Linked DNA regions of Homo sapiens. The protein of the gene in region 1 interacts with the protein of each later gene in a pairwise test. Each region holds a gene or a part of one and is shown on either strand. Other genes may lie near its edges.

Region 1 (7,118 bases):
ACTGTGTGAATATCACACAAGTTATTCACCTGTATCACCACTGATCACACTTGGGTTGATTCTAGTTTGGGGCTTTTATGAGTAGTGCTGTTTTGGCCATATGTGAACGTGCGTTTGGGTAAACTCTGTAACGGATGCATGCATGAATGAATGACTAAATGTAATCTGATGGCCAGGCACCATGGCTCTTGCCTTTAATCCTGGCACTTTGAGAAGCCTTGGCGGAAAGATTCAGACCAGCCTGGGCAACATGGTGAGACCCCGTCTCTACAAAAAAATACAAAAATTAGTTGGGTGTGGGGGCACGTGCATGTAAGCCCCAGCTACTCAGGAGGCTGAGGTGGGAGGATCACTAGAGCCCAGGAGGTTGAGGCTGCAGTGAGCCATGATCATGCTACTTCACTCCAGCCTGGGCAACAGAGTGAGACCGTATCTCAAAAAAAAAAAAAAAAAAAAAAAATCTGACAAGTGGGAAAACATCCTCAGCTCTTCCTGCCCCTGTTTAGGGTTACCTTTCTGCTACCCTGTGTCTAATAGAAATGACATGACCTGTCAAGTAAGGAGATCATGGTTTTCACCTGGCAAAGTCCATGCCGAGGTGGCTCCACCCTTTGGCCATGATGCAGATTTCAGTAGTCAGGTTGCTATCATGTAGCCCTTAGCAGGGAGAGACTCTTACAGGCTGGAAGCCCAGACCAGATGCACAGGTCGGGATATCAGGTCCCATGAGCTGAATTTTCCCTCCAGAATAGACAGCAACAAGTCCAGCAGGTCCACAATGCAGGCATTAAAACTTTCCTCAACCTGGCAGGGTCCAGGTAAGCATGGCCACCCCCTCGAGTGACTTTCCATATTGCTCATCTTCCAGGTTGGTTCTTTGACCATCTTTTTTTTTTTTTTTTTTTTTGAGACTGAATTTTGCTCTTGTTGCCCAGGCTGGAGTGCAATGGCGTGATCTCTGCTCACTGCAACCTCTGCCTCCCAGGTTCAAGCTATTCTCCTGCCTCAGCCTCCCGAGTAGCTGGAATTACAGGCATGCACCAGCACACCCGGCTAATTTTTGTATTTTTAGTAGAGATGGGGTTTCTCCATGTTGGTCAGGCTGGTCTTGAACTCCCAACCTCAGGTGATCCACCTGCCTCGGCCTCCCAAAGTGTTGAGATTACAGGCGTGAGCCACCGCATCCAGCTGATCATCCTTTTTGTAGTGAGATCCATCTTTCCATTCATTCATTCATCCAGCATGAACTGAATGTTCACTCTTTTATGGTCTCTGGGGGATGGGGCAAATGCTAGGGTTGTGATAGGGTGCAGTGATGAATTCATATTCATCTTTTCTCTTTTTAAAAAATAATGTTATTTTTGTAGAGACAGGGTCTCCCTATGTTGCCCAGGCTGGTCTTGAACTCATGGGTCCAGGTGATCCTCCCACCTCAGCCTCCCCAAGTACAGGCATGGGCCACCATTCCTGGCCTCATCCTTTCTCTTAAGGAGTTCACAGCTGGTGAAATTGGGCATTGCAGTATTACATTACATGGAATACCAAAATAACGGGTGAGATATGCTGGTGAATCAAAGGAAGGAGTGATCTGGTCAAGCCTGCCCAGGAAGGTGAGATTCCCTAGAAGAGGGGGCACTAGAGCAGGATCTTGAAGAGTGAATAGGAGTCCATCAGGCTGACCAGGTGGAAGGACATTCCAGCAGGGGACGAGCATGCCCAAAGGCATAGATAAAAGAGTGTTGTGGGGGCTGGGTGTGGTGGCTCATGCCTGTAATCCCAGCACTTTGGGAAGCCGAGGCAGTTGGCTAATTGAGGTCAGGAGTTCGAGACCAGCCTGGCTAACATAGTGAAACCCCCTCTCTACTAAAAATACAAATATTAGCCAGGCATGGTGGTGTGCACCTATAATCTCAGCTACTCAGGAGGCTGAGGCAGGAGAATCACTAGAATCCAGGAGGTGGAGATTGCAGTGAGCCAAGATTGCACCACTGCACTCCAGCCTGGGCGACAGAGCAAGACTCCATCTCAAAAAAAAAAAAAAAAAAAAAAAAAGTGTGTTGTGGGGTCTGTGTGGGGTGGGTAATGAGGCTGGGGAGATAGATGGTTTAGATCACAGGAGGCTTTGTAAGCCACCTGAAAATTTCAGACTTACTGAAGCATTTTAATCAGGGGAGCTACATGGCCAGTTCTGCCGTTTAGGGAAATTAGTCTGGTGGCAATGTGGAGGATGGATTGGAGGTGGTGATACCAGAGTCAGGGAATTTGTTTACAAAGTATTTTTACCCAATCTCATTGTCCTTCTCGGGCACGCCACACAGATATGACTACATATTGCTGCCATCCTCAATCAGGGGAGACATTTCAGCAACAGATGCCTGTCATTTCCAATTGGTTCATCTTAATAAAATTAAGAAACACTGAGGGAAACACATTTCTAAATGCTTCATGTAACTGTTTTCTATCCAACGGACCCTGCATTCCTTGAAACAAGAGTGTATTTGACTCATCGCTGCACATCCAGTATCTGGTGTAGAGTAGATCTTCAATAAATGTTAGTTGAATGATGGAAAGAATGAGTAATATTCAATTGCAAGTATGTTTGGCAGGAACATATTTTACCTTACCATTGGGTCATAGTCTTTCAGGAAACTCCAGTTCTGAATCCTGGAAAGGAAAAACATGTTGGCTGTGTGAGTTCCTTCCAGGACATTTTTACCAATGACTTTCACTGTGTCAAGTCAATGCAACAATGTATCACGTGGAAGAACTAAATAATTTTTTTTTTTTTTTTTTTTTTTTAAGACGGAGGCTCACTCTGTCACCCAGGCTGGAGTGCCGTGGCGCAATCTTGGCTCCCTGCAAGCTCCGCCTCCCGGGTTCACGCCATTCTCCTGCCTCAGCCTCCCGAGTAGCTGGGACTACAGGCACCCGCCACCGCGCCTGGCTAATTTTTTGTATTTTTAGTAGAGATGGGGTTTCACCGTGGTCTCGATCTCCTGACCTTGTGATCCGCCCGCCTCGGCCTCCCAAAGTGCTGGGATTACAGGCGTGAGCCACCACGCCCAGCCTTTTTTTTTTTTTTTTTTTGAGAGGGAGTCTCGCTCTGTCACCTAGGCTGAAGTGCAGTGGCATAATCTCAGCTCACTGCAACCTCTGCCTCCCAGGTTCAAGCAATTCCCCTGTCTCAGCCTCCCAAGTAGCTGGGACTACAGGTGCATGCCACCACACCCGGCTAATTTTTGTATTATTAGTGTAGATGGGGTTTCACCATATTGGTCAGGCTGGTCTTGAATTCCTGACCTCAGGTGGTCCACCCACCTTGGCCTCCCAAAGTGCTGGGATTACAGGCATGAGCCACTGTGCCCAGCCAGAACAAAATAATTTTTAAGTGAAACAAATGCCAAGTGTCAAGCAGGTATTTATGGTGTATCCTACCAAAGGAACAAACATTTCAATTTCCAATGACTTTTCCTAGAACGACAAATATGATGTCACTATGGTGGGGCTGCCTAAGGAAAGCAAAGGCTACCATCTCGCCCTGCCTCTGTGCATTTCAGAAGGCTACAGTAGGCAAGCATTCTCTGAAGAAAAAAGTTTTCACATCCCCAAACCTTTGTAACTTTCCAATGTGAGTGATAGAGGAAGGCTAGGGAGAGGTAGGAAAAGGGAGGGACCATAAGGATAGTATTAGCTTGCACTGGCCATTTAGTTTTATTTGAATCTAATCTTAAAAAGTCAAACAATTCTACAAAACATAATAAAAACAGCCTTCTCTGTCCCCATCCTCACAGCCCCTGAGCCCCACATCCTAGAGTCAAACCTTTGCCAGCCTTTTAGCTGTTTCTTCAGGCCTTTGCATCCATATTTTGAAATAATAGGATTCTACTGCTGTATTATGCCATTCTTGCCTTGCTATAAATAATACCTGAGACTGGGTAATTTATAAAGAAGGTGTAGGACAGGTGCGGTGGCTCACGCCTGTAATCCCAGCACTTTGGGAAGCTAAGGTGGGTGGATCACCTGAGGTCAGGAGTTCGAGACCAGCCTGGCCAACATGGTGAAACCCTGTCTCCACCAAAAATACAAAAATTAGCCGGGCATGGTGGCGGGCGCCTGTAATACCAGCTACTAGGGAGGCTGAGGCAGGAGAATCGCTTGAGCCCAGGAGGTGGAGGTTACAGTGAGCAGAGATCAAGCCACTGCACTCCAGCCTGGGTGACAGAGTGAGACTCTGTCTCAAAAAATAAAAATAAATAAAAATAAAAATAAAAAAAAGAAGGTGTAATTGGCTAACAGTTCCACAGGCTGTACAGGAAGCAGGATGCTGGCATCTGCTTAGCTTCTGGGGTGGTCTCAGGAAACTTACAATCATGGTGGAAGGCAAAGTGGCAGCAGGCAGGTCACATGGCCAGAGCAGGAGCAAAGGAGAGAGAAGGGAAGTGCCACACACTTTAAAAGAACCAGATCTGGTGAGAACTCACTACTGTGAGGACAGTACCATGGGGATGGTATAAACCATTTATGAGAAGCCACCCGCATGATCCAATCGCCTTCCACCGGGCCCCACCTCCAAAACTGGGGATTACTATTCAACATGCGATTTGGGTGGGGACACAGATCCACACCATATCCACTGCTGTTTCTTAATATTTTTTAAAATTTAAACTTATCTATCGACTTTCTATTATGGGAGATGAAGAGTTATCATTCTTACCCCTGCCCTTCCCTTTGTTCTTTCAAAATCATTATAGATCTCAGTTAAATTGATATGTATCGTTTTGATTCTTATGATTATGTAAATGTTATCCCCTGGTGAACTAAGGAGTGCAATATACCCCAATTCTGTTCTTGTACAACCTTGTATTCTTTCTAGAGCTAATAGAGAAATTACATTTCCTCCCAATTTTATTTAGGCTTCTATGTACTGATCATTGATTTCACATGCTCCAACAAAACTGAAAAGTCCCTCTCAATATTATTTTCTACACAGTCATGTGCATCAGATAATAAACATTCCTTTAAAACCTTTCTGCCAGGCGCGGTGGCTCACGCCTGTAATCCCAGCACTCTGGGAGGCCGAGGCAGGCAGATCACGAGGTCAGGAGATCGAGACCATCCTGGCTAACACGGTGAAACCTCGTCTCTACTAAAAATACAAAAATTAGCCGGGCGTGGTAGCGGGCACCTGTAGTCCCAGCTACTTGGGAGGCCGAGGCAGGAGAATGGCGTGAACCCGGGAGGCGGAGCTTGCAGTGAGCCGAGATGGCACCACTGCACTCCAGCCTGGGTGACAGAGCAAGACTCCGTCTCAAAATAAAGAAAGAAAGAAATAAAATAAAACCTTTCTTAGACACCTCCTCAGAAGCCCCATATCCTCCTGCTCCCACTGGCCTAGCCATGCCTCAAGATCACAGGCTGGTCTTTTCCTTCACCAACACACTGGCATCCCCCTCTTTGGGAATTCCATGTCTCACTTTCTTGTTAATGCACCTGTTTTTGTGGAGCACCTACTCCAATATCTGTGGACTCATGCATTTCTTTGGTTCTGGAAAATTCTCACTTACTTTCTCTTTAGACATTCTCTCTCCCATTCTCTCCTCTGGGAGTTTTGATTAAAGATAGGTTGGACCTTCTTGTTCAGTTTCTCTACGTTTTTAATTCGTCATTTGTGTTTTCTGTCTTGATTTTCTGAATAATTTCTCCTGTCTTGAGTTTATGAAGTCTCACTTCAGTTATGTCTTATATTTCAACTTTATATATTTTTATTTCTACAAGTTCTTTTTGTTTTTTGTTTTTTTTTGAGATGGAGTCTCACTCTGTCACCCAGGCTGGAGTGCAGTGGCACAATCTCGGCTGATTGCAGCCTCTGCCTGCCGGGTTCAAGCAATTCTCCCTGCGTCAGCCTCCTGAGTAGCTGGGATTACAGGTGCACACTACCATGCCTGGCTAATTTTTGTGTTTTTAGTAGAGATGGGGTTTCACCATGTTGGCCAGGCTAGTCTCGAACTCCTGACTTCAGGTGATCTGCCCACCTCAGCTTCCCAAAGTGCTGGGATTATAGGTGTGAGCGATTGTGCCCGACCTCTTGTTTCATTTTTATAAGCAGGCTACTAGAAAATTTAAGCTATGTGTGTGGCTCACATTGTATTTCCGTTGGGCAGCACTGCCTTGCACATTCCTCTTTGGGCTTTCCAGGCCTTGCAAAACTCTTTCCCCTTGGTCTTTATGCCTCCTTGTGCCCCTGGCTTTCTTCTCTGGTGTTTCCTGGCAGCGTCTCTGCCCTTCTAGTAAATGTTACAAGTTCTGTCCTGCATCCTCGCCTCTTCTGATCCATTGTGCTCTTCCAGAGAGAGCTTATTCACATCGCTGGGGCCAATGCCCACCCGTTTCCTTCTAAAATTGAGATAGAATTCACATTCCATAAGATTCACCTTTTAAAGGACACAATTAAATGACTTTTAATATATTCACGGAGTTGGGCAACCATCACCACTTTCTGATTCCAGAACATTTCATCACCCCCAAAACACCTGTGTCCATTTGCAGTCAGTCCTCATCCTCCAAAACACCTGTGTCCATTTGCAGTCAGTCCTCATCCTCCCCTTCTGGATGGGTTTTTAATGCGCAACTCCTGACTCTCACACTCAACTACCTCCTGGGCAGCTCCATCTAGACGTGGTTCAGGCATTTAAAACTCACCAGAACTCAGCATCTTCATCATTTTCTTCTCCTCCTTATTAATTATTCAAGCTGAGACCTGTCATCCTTTACTCCTTCCTCACCTTTCCTCCCACATTTACTCAGTTTGTAAATATTTTCTGTCATTCTGTAAGTTGCCTTTTCACTCTGTTAATTGTTGTCTTTGCTGTGCAGAAGTTTTCACATGCAAAAGAATGAAATTGGATCCTTTCTAACATGATACATACCAATCCAGTCAAAAACATAGGAAGAAGCTTCATGACATTGGTCTTGGCAATTATTCCATGGATATGCCACACAAAGGACAGGCAACAAAAGCAGATAGACAGATGGGATTACATCAAACTCAAAAACTTCTGAAGAGCAAAGGAAACAAGCAATGAAGTGAAAAGGCAACACACAGAATGGGAGACAATATT
Region 2 (7,706 bases), on another chromosome or scaffold:
AATAAAAAAAGGTAAACCTGAAAGAGCACCAGTGGCTAAAGCTGAAACAATTTAGGCAATTTAAGTCATCAGACTATAATCTAAAATATAAAATCAATATACTTAGGTCTATAGTGACACAAAGAATTGAATAACTGAAGAAATGAGTGGAGATAAATCTTCCTTATATAAAAATTCCAAATGTAGATACTCCCTCACCCAGGAGGTAGAGCTTAATTCTCATCATTTTGAATGTGGGCTGGACTTCATGATCTGCTTCAGAAGAATACAAGGAAACATAGTAACTTTAAAATGCAGCAACCTGGCAGAGACTACCTTAACCATGTGATCCAGGTTAATACTGCCAGTGACAACTCATGTTGATACGTAACCCCTAATATGATGACGTGAACATACTTCACCTCTGTGGCATTCTTTCCCCAAACCCATAACCTCAGTCTAATCATGAAAAAAACAAGATAAACCCAATTTGTAGAGGATTCTACAAAAATATCTGACCAGTGCTTTTCAAAACCGTCAAGATGGTAAAATGAAGGAAACGACTGGGAAATTGTCATGGATTGTTGGCAACTATGGAAACAGGATGAATAAATATAATGTTGGATCGCGGGATAGTAAAAGGACATTAGCAAAGGGCCGGGCGTGGTGGTTCACACCTGTAATCCCAGTACTTTGAGAGGCCCAGGTGGGTGCATCACTTGAGGTCTGGAGCTCAAGATCAGCCTGGCCAACATGGAGAAACCCTGTCTCTACTAAAAAAATACAAAAATTAGCTGGTCGTGGTGGTGTGCACCTGTAGTCCCAGCTACTAGGTAGGCTGAGGCAGGGGAATTGCTTGATCCTGGGAGGCGGAGGTTGCAGTGAGCCGAGATCACACCACTGCACTCCAGCCTGGGCTACAGAGCCAGCCTCCGTCAAAAAAAAACCCAGAACATTAGTAGAAAAAACAGTGAAATCTGAATAAAGTCTGTAGTTTAGTTAGTCATGCACCAATGTTAATTTCGTAATATGACATGGTGATGTAAGATGTTATCATTAAGGGAGACTGAATGAGGGACTGTATTATTTTACAACTTTTCTATAAATCTGAAAATATTCCCAAATATAAATTTGTAAAAAATGAAGAGGAAACTTACAGGTTTTTAAAATACCGAAAGAAACATAACCATTTTAAATGTAATGCGTAGACCAATGTCTAGATCCAAACTAAAACAAACTATAAAAACAAACAAACAAACAAAATGCCTGTTTGAGACAATCAGACTGAAGGTTAGATGACAAAGAATTGCTAATTTTGTTGGATGTGATAATAATATTGTTACATTTTAAAATCCTCATCTGTTAGAGGAAAATGTTGAGGAACTCCCAGATGAAATGTTATGATGTTTGGATTTTGCTTTAAAATACTCCCACAAAACAAGGGAAGGGAGGTGATAGATGAAACAAGATTAGCATAGAGCTGATGATTGCTGAAGTCGGGTGATGAGTACATAGAATTCATGGCAATGTTCTCTCTACATTTATTGGTATTTGAAAATTTCCATACTAAGAAGCTAAAAGAACAGAACGAAAACAAAAACAGACACACACACATATGTAAGCAAGATACCAAGGCTGCCAGTTTGAAGCCACTGAAGAAAACAAGAAATTTACCCTGAGAATGCATAATTAATAAGAGCTCAGAGTAACTGACAATTTTCAGGTAAATTTCCTTTCTTCTTATTAATAAATATTCACTGGTGCTAGATCAGAAGCCAATAATTAAGTAAAAGTCAAAAGGAAAATAGAATTCCATCAACTACGTTCTAATTATAAAGAAAAATCCCTTCAGGGATGGTATCTGACTCAGTGAAGCGTGCCTGTGATTTTGGTGGACGAGAACTAGAACTGAACGGTGCTTCAAAACGTATTTTTCTTTCAAAGGTCTCAAAAGCTGTATGACAAATCCGTGAAGAAACAGCATATAAGGTACCTCGACTCCGGCGGCAGCTAAAACCCATCTCACGGACTCCATCCGGCCTCTTCCGTTGGGATAGTGGAGCTTGGGCCTTGCTGCCATGATAGCTTTTCAGGCTTTCTGAAATACAAATGCAGCAGCTCGTCGCAGACCAACAGTCCCAATTTCGCGTCTTCAACCCAGTGCTCAGGGGCGAAATGAATATTCAGGATTTTGGCACGGGAAACTGTTCTTTATTTTTGTTGCTGCATTTTCCCTCACTCAAGAAAAAAAAACCACCATTTTAAAACATGGAGAAAAAAACCTTGGCTTTTATATGATTTCTATTTATGACTTCTTATCCTGGATCTTGGGAAGCTGGGGCCATTTGTTGTAAAAACATATGTGCTAGCAGTACGGGATTTCACAAATTCAGAATATTATATATTTTGACCTCGAGAATCTCAGATTTTCCAAATTCAGCTGGGGGATAGGGGGTGGCAGGCGTTGAAGAGGGTAGCGAAGGAAAATCGCACAGCCACTGGAAGCTCTTCAAGTATTCATGCTTTTACATACATCATCATATTTTATTATCACGGCAACTGGAAGGTGAACAGGCCGAGTACTACTACTGTCTGCAAAATGTGCGTCCACCGTCACGCATGCGGTGGCTGCGCCCCCCGGGTCCCGCGTGTCCACCACCCCTACAGGGAGATGAGCCCCCGGCCTTGTAAAACGAGCCGGGGGCCAGGGCTTGGCCATCTGAGATCGCACTCTCCCATGCTCGTCTTCCCCGCTCAGCCCATGCAGGGGCGTAGCGGCAGCCCAGCCAGGCCCGGGGACGATCCGAGCCCACCTTCCACCAATGCATTCAGACTCCGCAGAAGGGGTTTAAAAAAAAATACGCACACTGAGCCAAGAAGGACCCCAGCTCCAGCCAAGGGGCCCACCTCTGCCCAGACTGGATGGAGCAGGAGGACAAAGGACAAGAGGAAGAAAAGACAAGAGAAGGACTGAACTGGGGGAGTGAGGGAAGAATGCGAGAGTGAGACTCAGAGAGTAAAGGGGAGGGAAAAAAAAGAAGAGAGAAAGGGCGAGGAAGGGGGCGACCGCAGGAGGGAGACAGACCTGGAGTCCACTCGGAGGCCTGGAGCCGCACAAAGCGCCAGGTCAGCGGTCCCGGCTGGGTGAGACCAGCAGGCGGCTCTAGCGCGCGGGAGCTGGGCGAGGCTCCGGGACGACCTCACCAATGGAGACTGCAGTATTTAGCATGCCCCACCCATCTGCAAGGCATTCTGGATAGTGTCAAAACAGCCGGAAATCAAGTCCGTTTATCTCAAACTTTAGCATTTTGGGAATAAATGATATTTGCTATGCTGGTTAAATTAGATTTTAGTTAAATTTCCTGCTGAAGCTCTAGTACGATAAGCAACTTGACCTAAGTGTAAAGTTGAGACTTCCTTCAGGTTTATATAGCTTGTGCGCCGCTTGGGTACCTCGGATGTGAGGGCGATCTGGCTGCGACATCTGTCACCCCATTGATCGCCAGGGTTGATTCGGCTGATCTGGCTGGCTAGGCGGGTGTCCCCTTCCTCCCTCACCGCTCCATGTGCGTCCCTCCCGAAGCTGCGCGCTCGGTCGAAGAGGACGACCATCCCCGATAGAGGAGGACCGGTCTTCGGTCAAGGGTATACGAGTAGCTGCGCTCCCCTGCTAGAACCTCCAAACAAGCTCTCAAGGTCCATTTGTAGGAGAACGTAGGGTAGTCAAGCTTCCAAGACTCCAGACACATCCAAATGAGGCGCTGCATGTGGCAGTCTGCCTTTCTTTTGACCCATTACCCATCTAAGTTAGATGCTTTTTTAAATGTTTTTTAATTTTTAAATTTTTAATTTTTTTCATTATTTATTTTTTATTTTTGAGACGGATCTCGGCTCACTGTAACCTCCACCTCCCGGGTTCAAGCGATTCTCCTGACTCAGCCTCCCGAGTAGCTGGGATTACAGGCGCGCGCCACCATGCCCGGCTAATTTTTCTATTTTTAGTAAAGACGGGGTTTCGCCATGTTGACCAGGGTGGTCTTGAACTCCTGACGTCAGGTGATCCTCCTGCCTCGTGCTGGGATTGCAGGCGTGAGCCACCGCTCCCGGCCCTTAGATGCTTTTTAATCAGCAAGTACGCAATGCTTTCCTGACAGGAATGTCAAGTCCGTCAGGAAATCCACATAAGGGTGTTAAGCAGGCAAAGTACCACATACAGATTAAAATCAAAAGCACTGTCAACGCTTATTTAATTTATACAGTAGACCCTAACTTTTCTAATTTTGTGTATACATATATATACATGTATACATGTATACAAACATACATATTTTCTTCTTTCTTTCTTCATCTCAGTGGGACATCTTGAGATTTCTCTTCATTTTGTACATTTTAGAGACAAGTGCTCTATAGTCACGGTCTCAAGTCAGCACCTGTTTGGAAGGGGGTCTTTGGAGTTGGGGGTGGTGCTAAAAGAATAATTTGGCTGGCAAGTTAGTTAAAACATTAAAAATATATTAAAACTATCAGGGCTATATTATGGAACAATTGCAAAATTCACATGGATTTCAAAGTTTGAAATATATGCCTTCGAAAATAAATTTTGTTTTTAGAGGCAGCTTCTGCTATTTCTCAGGCTATAGATGTTGTTATTTTCTTCACCCACGGGGGCGCTCGAGAGTACCTTGCTTGACAAGCCTGGGTGCTGAACAATTGCAGCCGCTAACATGATCAGATTTTATTTTCAATAGGTTTCTCTGGCCAAAGTGAGGCGAATGAATTGGGGTAGTAGGGGTAGAGAAAGAAACCTCTTGTGTCTGTGTAAATTAAAGTAGCACCATGAGTTTGAAGAATATGAGTAAGAAAAGGTGAAATACTAAGGAGGTAGGTGGTAAAGCAATTGCTAATCAGATCAAAGGGAAGGGAGGAGGAAGAAAAGTCTAGAATGATGCCCTGTCCAACACACACACACACACACACACACACACACACACACACACACACACACACACACACTTCTTGTCTTTTTTTTAATAACATGTATTGTCATCTAACAGGACTTTTTTATTTATTTGTCTGTAGATTCCTAGAATGTAAATTCCACGAGATCGAGGATTTTTGCGCTTTTGGTTTTCCTTTTGTACATCCTGGTTAGTATAGAGTAGGTATTCAGAGAACACTTGTTGAATGAATGAATGAGCAATGCTTTGGTTTCTAGTTCCATAAAGAGCGGAGAAGGAAGACAAAGTTTGGGGAAAATGGGTTGACTTGTCTTTTGTTGCTATGAACCATCCAGCTGGAAATACCCACTAGACAGTTGAAAAAGCCATTGAGGGCTGGGCGCAGTGGCTCACGCCTGTAATCCCAGCACTTTGAGAGGCTGAGGCGGGCGGATCACCTGAGGTCAGGAGTTCAAGACCAGCGTGGCCAACATGGTGAAACCCTGTTTCCACTAAAAATACAAAATTAGTCGGGCGTGGTGGCCTGTTCCTGTAGTCCCAGCTATTCAGGAGGCTGAGGCGGGAGAATCGCTTGAACCTGGAAGGCGGAGGTTGCAGTGAGCCGTGATCACGCCCCTGCAGTACAAGCTGGGCGAGAAAGTAAGACTCCCTATAAAAAAAAAACCGAAAAGACAAAAACCAACCCAGTGAGGACTCAGTAGAGAGAACTGAAATCGGTTGAATTGGTGGCAAAAGAATGAGCTCATCCAGAGAAGGTATGCAGGGTAAGAAGAGAGGTAAGTCAAGGACCACTGGGCACCCCAAAAGTCAGAAAAGTCGTTTTCAAAAAAGACTTAACAGTGTATATCCAATCATATTTCTAGTTCTGATTTAACAGCAATTACTCAGTTTAACATGAGTAGGAAGCCATATTTTCCAGCCTTGCTGAAAGTGGTCATTCTTTTTTTCTTGCTTTTAGTTTATAATTAAGGAAGGTTTATTGAACATCTGTGCTGAGGTCTACTGGATTTACTGAGACATAAAAAATAAATTATAAAATCCAGTTCTTGCCCTCAAGGAGCTTATTTTTTAATTGACAAATAAAATTGTATATTTTTACTGTGTACAACATGATATTTTAAAGTACAGTCATCCCTCAGTATCTGTGGGGGATTGGTTTCAGAACCCCCTCAGCTACCAAAATCAGACCATGCTCCAGTCCCTTATATAAAACGGTGTAGTATTTGCATGTAACTTAACACACATCCTTTGGTTTACTTTAAATCATCTCTAGATTTTTTATGTTAACCTAAATAACAAACAGAAAGAGGCTCTTTAAAAATATTTATTTGGAAATTGAATTTTGCAATAGGAATATGCATGCCATAGTAAATTATGTGTGTATTCAGGGAGGTAAAATAAAACAAAGATTTTTAAAGGACAAAAATGACGATGGCATAATTGTTTTAAAATAAGTATCCTTTGCTGCAAAGATGAATAACAAGGGCAATAATCCCAGTATTTTTTTGTGTAAGACTGCAATGGCCATTGTGGAAGGTTGTGGTTCTTATAGTCTTTTGTGATCGTGTGTTGTTGTTGTTGTTGTTGTTGTTGTTGTTTGTTTGTCTTTTGGAGACAGGGTCTTGCTGTATTGCCCAGGCTGGAATGCAATGGTGCGATCAGGGCTCACTACAGCTTCGAGGCTCAAGTGATCCTCCCACCTCAGCCTCCTGAGTAGCTGAGACTACAGGCGCATGACACTACTGGCTAATTTTTAGTTTTTGTAGAGAAGGGGTCTAACTATGCTGCCCAGGCTGGTCTCAAACTCCTAGGCTCAAGTGATCCTCCCACCTCTGCCTCTTAAAGTGCTGTGATTACAGGCATGTACCTCTGCACCTGGCTTTTGTGATTGCTTTTATTAGACATTTAAGCCAAGCACTTGTCTCCATTTGCTTAGTTCCAACTGGTTGAATTATACCAAATTGCTAATATCTTACTGTTTTTAACCTTCAAAAATGGCAGTTTCAGATGTCCAATCTTATAAAATAGAGGCAACATCATCCTAGAGTTAGGGAAACAGGAGTGTAGGAGAGCCAGGGTGACAGCATTTTAAAATCAACTCCATCTTACAATGAGAACACATAGACACAGGGAGGGGAACAACACACACCAGGGCCAGTCGGGGGGTGGGGGAGTGAGGGGAGGGGGAGCATTAGGACAAATATCTAATACATACCGGGCTTAAAACCTAGATGATGGGTTAATAGGTGCAGCAAACCACCATGGCACACTACACCATGGCACAACTACACGTTGTGCGCTTGTATTCTGGAACTTAAACTAGATTAAAAAACAAAAAAATCAGCTCCATCTTAAGATGTCTACAGCTGAGGAAATAGCTTAATAATACCTGGAAGGACAAATTCCTATGACAGTAGAATGTCCAGATGTTCCAATATTGCATAATGCTAAACACCTTTAAGGTAATTATAGTCATGCTTTCACGTATTTACGCATGAAAATGCCAAGGATACCTTTCTTTAAATTAACAAAGTACTAATTTTTTTCATTCTGTTAGCCCACTCGCACGTAGACATTGCTTAGCTTACCTTTTACAGAGATAAGACCCCTATCGAATAAAAACAAAGAAGAGGCATTCCTCCTCTTGCTTTCTGAGAATGCTCTACTCTGTAACTGAGTAGCTTTCAATAAAATGTTACTTCTCATGGCACTGGGTGACTCGCCTTACATTCCTTCCTGTGCGAGATCCAAGAACCCTCTTTTAGGATC
Region 3 (4,247 bases), about 16 Mb from region 1:
CCTTCAAGGTTAAAAGCAGGAAAGCAGGTTAATTGTCATGGGACATGCAGGAGGTAGAAAAGGAGGCGGTGGTGGAACATGGTGGCTCATACTTTTAATCCCAGCACTTTTGGAGGCTGAGGTGGGAGGATCACTTGAGCTCAGGAGTTCGAGACTAGCCTGGGCAACGTGGTAAAACCCTATCTCTATGAAAAAATAAAAATTATCTGGGTATGGTGGCACATGCCTGTGGTCCCAGCTACTCTGGAAGCTGAAGTGGGAGGATTGCTTGAGCCCAGGAGGTTGAGGCAGCAGTGAGCTGTGATTGTGCCACTGTACTCCAGCCTGGTTGGCACAGCAAGACCCTGTCTCAGAAAAAAGAAAGAAAGAAAATAAGGCAGAATCGTTAGAGGAATCCTGGGAAATTCGGTGAATTCAGTGATTGTGGGCAAAGGAAATTGTGATACTAGGCTTGTGAAATAAAAAAATGGTGAATATTGATCACATTGGGTAAGTTTGGGAAGAGAGAAGCTAAATTTGGCAAGATTTAGAAAAGAAGATAGGCAGTGAGTTGACTAATAAAGCAGAGAGGTAGAAACTAAGGAAAAAGAAAGTGTGGGGCCGGGCGCGGTGTCTCATGCCTGTAATACCGGCACTTTGGGAGGCTGAGGCGGGTGGATCACGAGGTCAGGAGATTGAGACCATCCTGGCTAACATGGTGAAACCGTCTCTACTGAAAATACAAAAAATTAGCCGGGCATGGTGGTGGGCACCTGTAGTCCCAGCTACTCGGGAGGCTGAGGCAGGAGAATGGCGTGAACCCGGTAGGCAGAGGTTGCAGTGAGCTGAGATTGCGCCACTGCACTCCAGCCTGGGCGACAGAGCGAGACTCCGTCTCAAAAAAAAAAAAAAAAAAAATTGTGAACATTAAAAAAGAAAGCTTGTGGTTGGAGAGCAGAAAAATAATTAAAACCAGAAAGGCAGTGGATGGTATCTTTCATATAATATCTTACAGTTTTTGAAGCCCTTTCAGGTGCATTTTTCAATATATTGTTTTCTCAGCAAGTGCTGAGCACCTACTATGTACAAAGCCTTGTGCTAAGTAGAATGAGAGCTATAAAGATGAACACACTGGGGGCTTGCCAGATGCCTGCTCCAGTTCCTTGTTTCCTTTTCTAGGAGTTCATTCAAAAGTGCCTGCAGTCTGAGCCTGCTCGCAGACCAACAGCCAGAGAACTTCTGTTCCACCCAGCATTGTTTGAAGTGCCCTCGCTCAAACTCCTTGCGGCCCACTGCATTGTGGGACACCAACGTGAGTCGTCTTGGCCCTATGGGGAATAGTCTTCCAATCTGGAGCCCTGTAACTATCACTGGCATGCTTGTTTTCCTCTTTATTTCCAAAGGGATTCTTTTTTTTTTTTTTTTTTTTTTTTTTTTTTTTTTTTGAGACAGAGTCTCACTCTCTCTCAGGCTGGAGTGCAATGGCTTGATCTCAGCTCATTGCAACCTCCAGCTCCCAGGCTCAAGCGATTCTTGTGCCTTAGCCTCCCGAAGAGCTGGGATTACAGGCATGTGCCACCATGCCTGGGTAATTTTTGTACTTTTAGTAGAGATGGGGTTTCGCCATGTTGGCCAGGCTGGTCTTGAACTGGCGTCAAGTGATCTGTCCGCCTCGGCTTCCCAAAGTGCTGGGATTACAGGCATGAGCCACTGTGCCAGGCCTCCAAAGGGATTCTTTACCCCTTTGCCTGCATGCCTTCTTTGACATTTAATCTGACTATCCCTTCATAATATCCCACTCCATCATGCCCTCCAGACATGATCCCAGAGAACGCTCTAGAGGAGATCACCAAAAACATGGATACTAGTGCCGTACTGGCTGAAATCCCTGCAGGACCAGGAAGAGAACCAGTTCAGACTTTGTGAGTAACTGAGAGGGTCTGAAAGGGGCAGATTGGTCACGACCACTCTTGAGGCTCTGTAAACTGTCCATTCTCTGGGAATGCTTGAATTTGCTATTTTGCTTGTTTCTTTCCTTCCATCTCCTTTCTCTTTTCTCGTCCAGGTACTCTCAGTCACCAGCTCTGGAATTAGATAAATTCCTTGAAGATGTCAGGTGAGAGCAGAGTGAGAAGCAGGCTTTCTTGAGGAAGCAGGCGGGGTTGGGTATCCTAAGGCGTTCACAGAGCCCATGTGACCTGTCTTCATCTCCCTCCAGGAATGGGATCTATCCTCTGACAGCCTTTGGGCTGCCTCGGCCCCAGCAGCCACAGCAGGAGGAGGTGACATCACCTGTCGTGCCCCCCTCTGTCAAGACTCCGACACCTGAACCAGCTGAGGTGGAGACTCGCAAGGTGGGGGCTGTGTGGGTGTGGATTGTCTCCATGGTTGTGGTGGAAGGGAGAGAGGACATCTCAAATAAGGCTCTATCCTTTAGAGAAAATGCTCCCTAGCAGCCATGCCCTATGGGCTCGAAAGACGTCTAGGTATTGGGTTTTTTATGGACAGGTCTCTAGAGTGACCCTCTCTTCCCTCCCTAGGTGGTGCTGATGCAGTGCAACATTGAGTCGGTGGAGGAGGGAGTCAAACACCACGTAAGGCTCAGGGCTAGGGTTGCGCAGGGCTAGTAGCCAGAGGGTAGGGAAGAAAAGTCTCATTTTCTGACTGTCCTATTCTCCAGCTGACACTTCTGCTGAAGTTGGAGGACAAACTGAACCGGCACCTGAGCTGTGACCTGATGCCAAGTGAGTCTCTCCTTTCCCTCAGAGGATGGAGAGTCTATGAGCCTTATCTTTTAGGGACATATTCAGGGGTGGGGGAGGTGACAAGGCAGTAACACATTGACTCACATAGAATGACTATCTTAGACCCTAAAGCAGTGGGTGGATCTGACTGACAGTTTAGCCCTAGTGGGGCTGTCTGAAGGGCCCCAGGTCCCTCAGTCCCGTACTGTACTCACCCCCTCCTGTTTCTTTGTCAGATGAGAATATCCCCGAGTTGGCGGCTGAGCTGGTGCAGCTGGGCTTCATTAGTGAGGTGAGGTTTCTGCCTTCATCTGCCCTGGCTGCCCCCATGCCTTCTCTTCTCTCAGCCCCCATCTTACTGAGCTCTTCTCCCCCAGGCTGACCAGAGCCGGTTGACTTCTCTGCTAGAAGAGACCTTGAACAAGTTCAATTTTGCCAGGAACAGTACCCTCAACTCAGCCGCTGTCACCGTCTCCTCTTAGAGCTCACTCGGGCCAGGCCCTGATCTGCGCTGTGGCTGTCCCTGGACGTGCTGCAGCCCTCCTGTCCCTTCCCCCCAGTCAGTATTACCCTGTGAAGCCCCTTCCCTCCTTTATTATTCAGGAGGGCTGGGGGGGCTCCCTGGTTCTGAGCATCATCCTTTCCCCTCCCCTCTCTTCCTCCCCTCTGCACTTTGTTTACTTGTTTTGCACAGACGTGGGCCTGGGCCTTCTCAGCAGCCGCCTTCTAGTTGGGGGCTAGTCGCTGATCTGCCGGCTCCCGCCCAGCCTGTGTGGAAAGGAGGCCCACGGGCACTAGGGGAGCCGAATTCTACAATCCCGCTGGGGCGGCCGGGGCGGGAGAGAAAGGTGGTGCTGCAGTGGTGGCCCTGGGGGGCCATTCGATTCGCCTCAGTTGCTGCTGTAATAAAAGTCTACTTTTTGCTAAAAGCGTCGTGTGTTCGCGCCTTTCCCGCCAGGGGGAGCGGGCCCGGGGCGGAGGCGGGGCCCAGGTGGGAGGGGGACCCGGGACGGAGGCGGGGCCCAGGTTGGGGCGGGGCCGGGCCCAGGTACAGCGGCCCTGCGGCTGGCGCGGCGGACGGGATGAGGCGCTGCAGTCTCTGCGCTTTCGGTAACTTCCGGGCCCTGGCGTCTCGTCTCCTTACCCTGGGGCTACCCTTGCCCCGTCCTACTGCCCGCGGTTAACCCGCCGCGAGCCGCCTCTCCCCTCCCCGCCCGACTCAACCCTGCCCTCCCCCGTGCTTTGCAGACGCCGCCCGGGGGCCCAGGCGGCTGATGCGTGTGGGCCTCGCGCTGATCTTGGTGGGCCACGTGAACCTGCTGCTGGGGGCCGTGCTGCATGGCACCGTCCTGCGGCACGTGGCCAATCCCCGCGGCGCTGTCACGCCGGAGTACACCGTAGCCAATGTCATCTCTGTCGGCTCGGGGCTGCTGGTGAGCGCGGCAGGCGACCCGGGCGGGGGCCGGGCTCCCGGAGAGCCCAGCAGGCCAAAGGCTTTGTGTCTTCCACAGAGCGTTTCCGTGG

Evidence for each region.
Region 2: the proteins of CIMIP5 (region 1) and GSTA4 interact in binary tests that used the Homo sapiens proteins (3 or more experiments, as listed by UniProt).
Region 3: the proteins of CIMIP5 (region 1) and NRBP1 interact in binary tests that used the Homo sapiens proteins (3 or more experiments, as listed by UniProt).

The regions. Positions count from the first base shown.
Region 1 is NC_000002.12:11,136,056-11,143,173, reverse strand, and holds part of CIMIP5 (ciliary microtubule inner protein 5), read right to left. Parts: intron 2,665-7,118; coding exon 2,625-2,664; intron 1-2,624.
Region 2 is NC_000006.12:52,992,185-52,999,890, forward strand, and holds the start of GSTA4 (glutathione S-transferase A4), read right to left. Parts: upstream 3,101-7,706; 5' UTR 3,065-3,100; intron 2,218-3,064; exon of another isoform or gene 2,078-2,217; 5' UTR 2,060-2,077; coding exon 1,973-2,059; intron 1-1,972. UniProt on the Homo sapiens protein: Conjugation of reduced glutathione to a wide number of exogenous and endogenous hydrophobic electrophiles. This isozyme has a high catalytic efficiency with 4-hydroxyalkenals such as 4-hydroxynonenal (4-HNE).
Region 3 is NC_000002.12:27,438,608-27,442,854, forward strand, and holds the end of NRBP1 (nuclear receptor-binding protein), read left to right. Parts: intron 1-1,158; coding exon 1,159-1,291; intron 1,292-1,795; coding exon 1,796-1,901; intron 1,902-2,044; coding exon 2,045-2,095; intron 2,096-2,197; coding exon 2,198-2,333; intron 2,334-2,519; coding exon 2,520-2,573; intron 2,574-2,659; coding exon 2,660-2,723; intron 2,724-2,959; coding exon 2,960-3,015; intron 3,016-3,100; coding exon 3,101-3,205; 3' UTR 3,206-3,652; downstream 3,653-4,247. Other genes in the region: KRTCAP3 (keratinocyte-associated protein 3), read left to right, coding at 3,806-3,833, 3,972-4,156, 4,235-4,247. UniProt on the Homo sapiens protein: Required for embryonic development. Plays a role in intestinal epithelial cell fate and proliferation, thereby involved in the architectural development of the intestine potentially via the regulation of Wnt-responsive genes.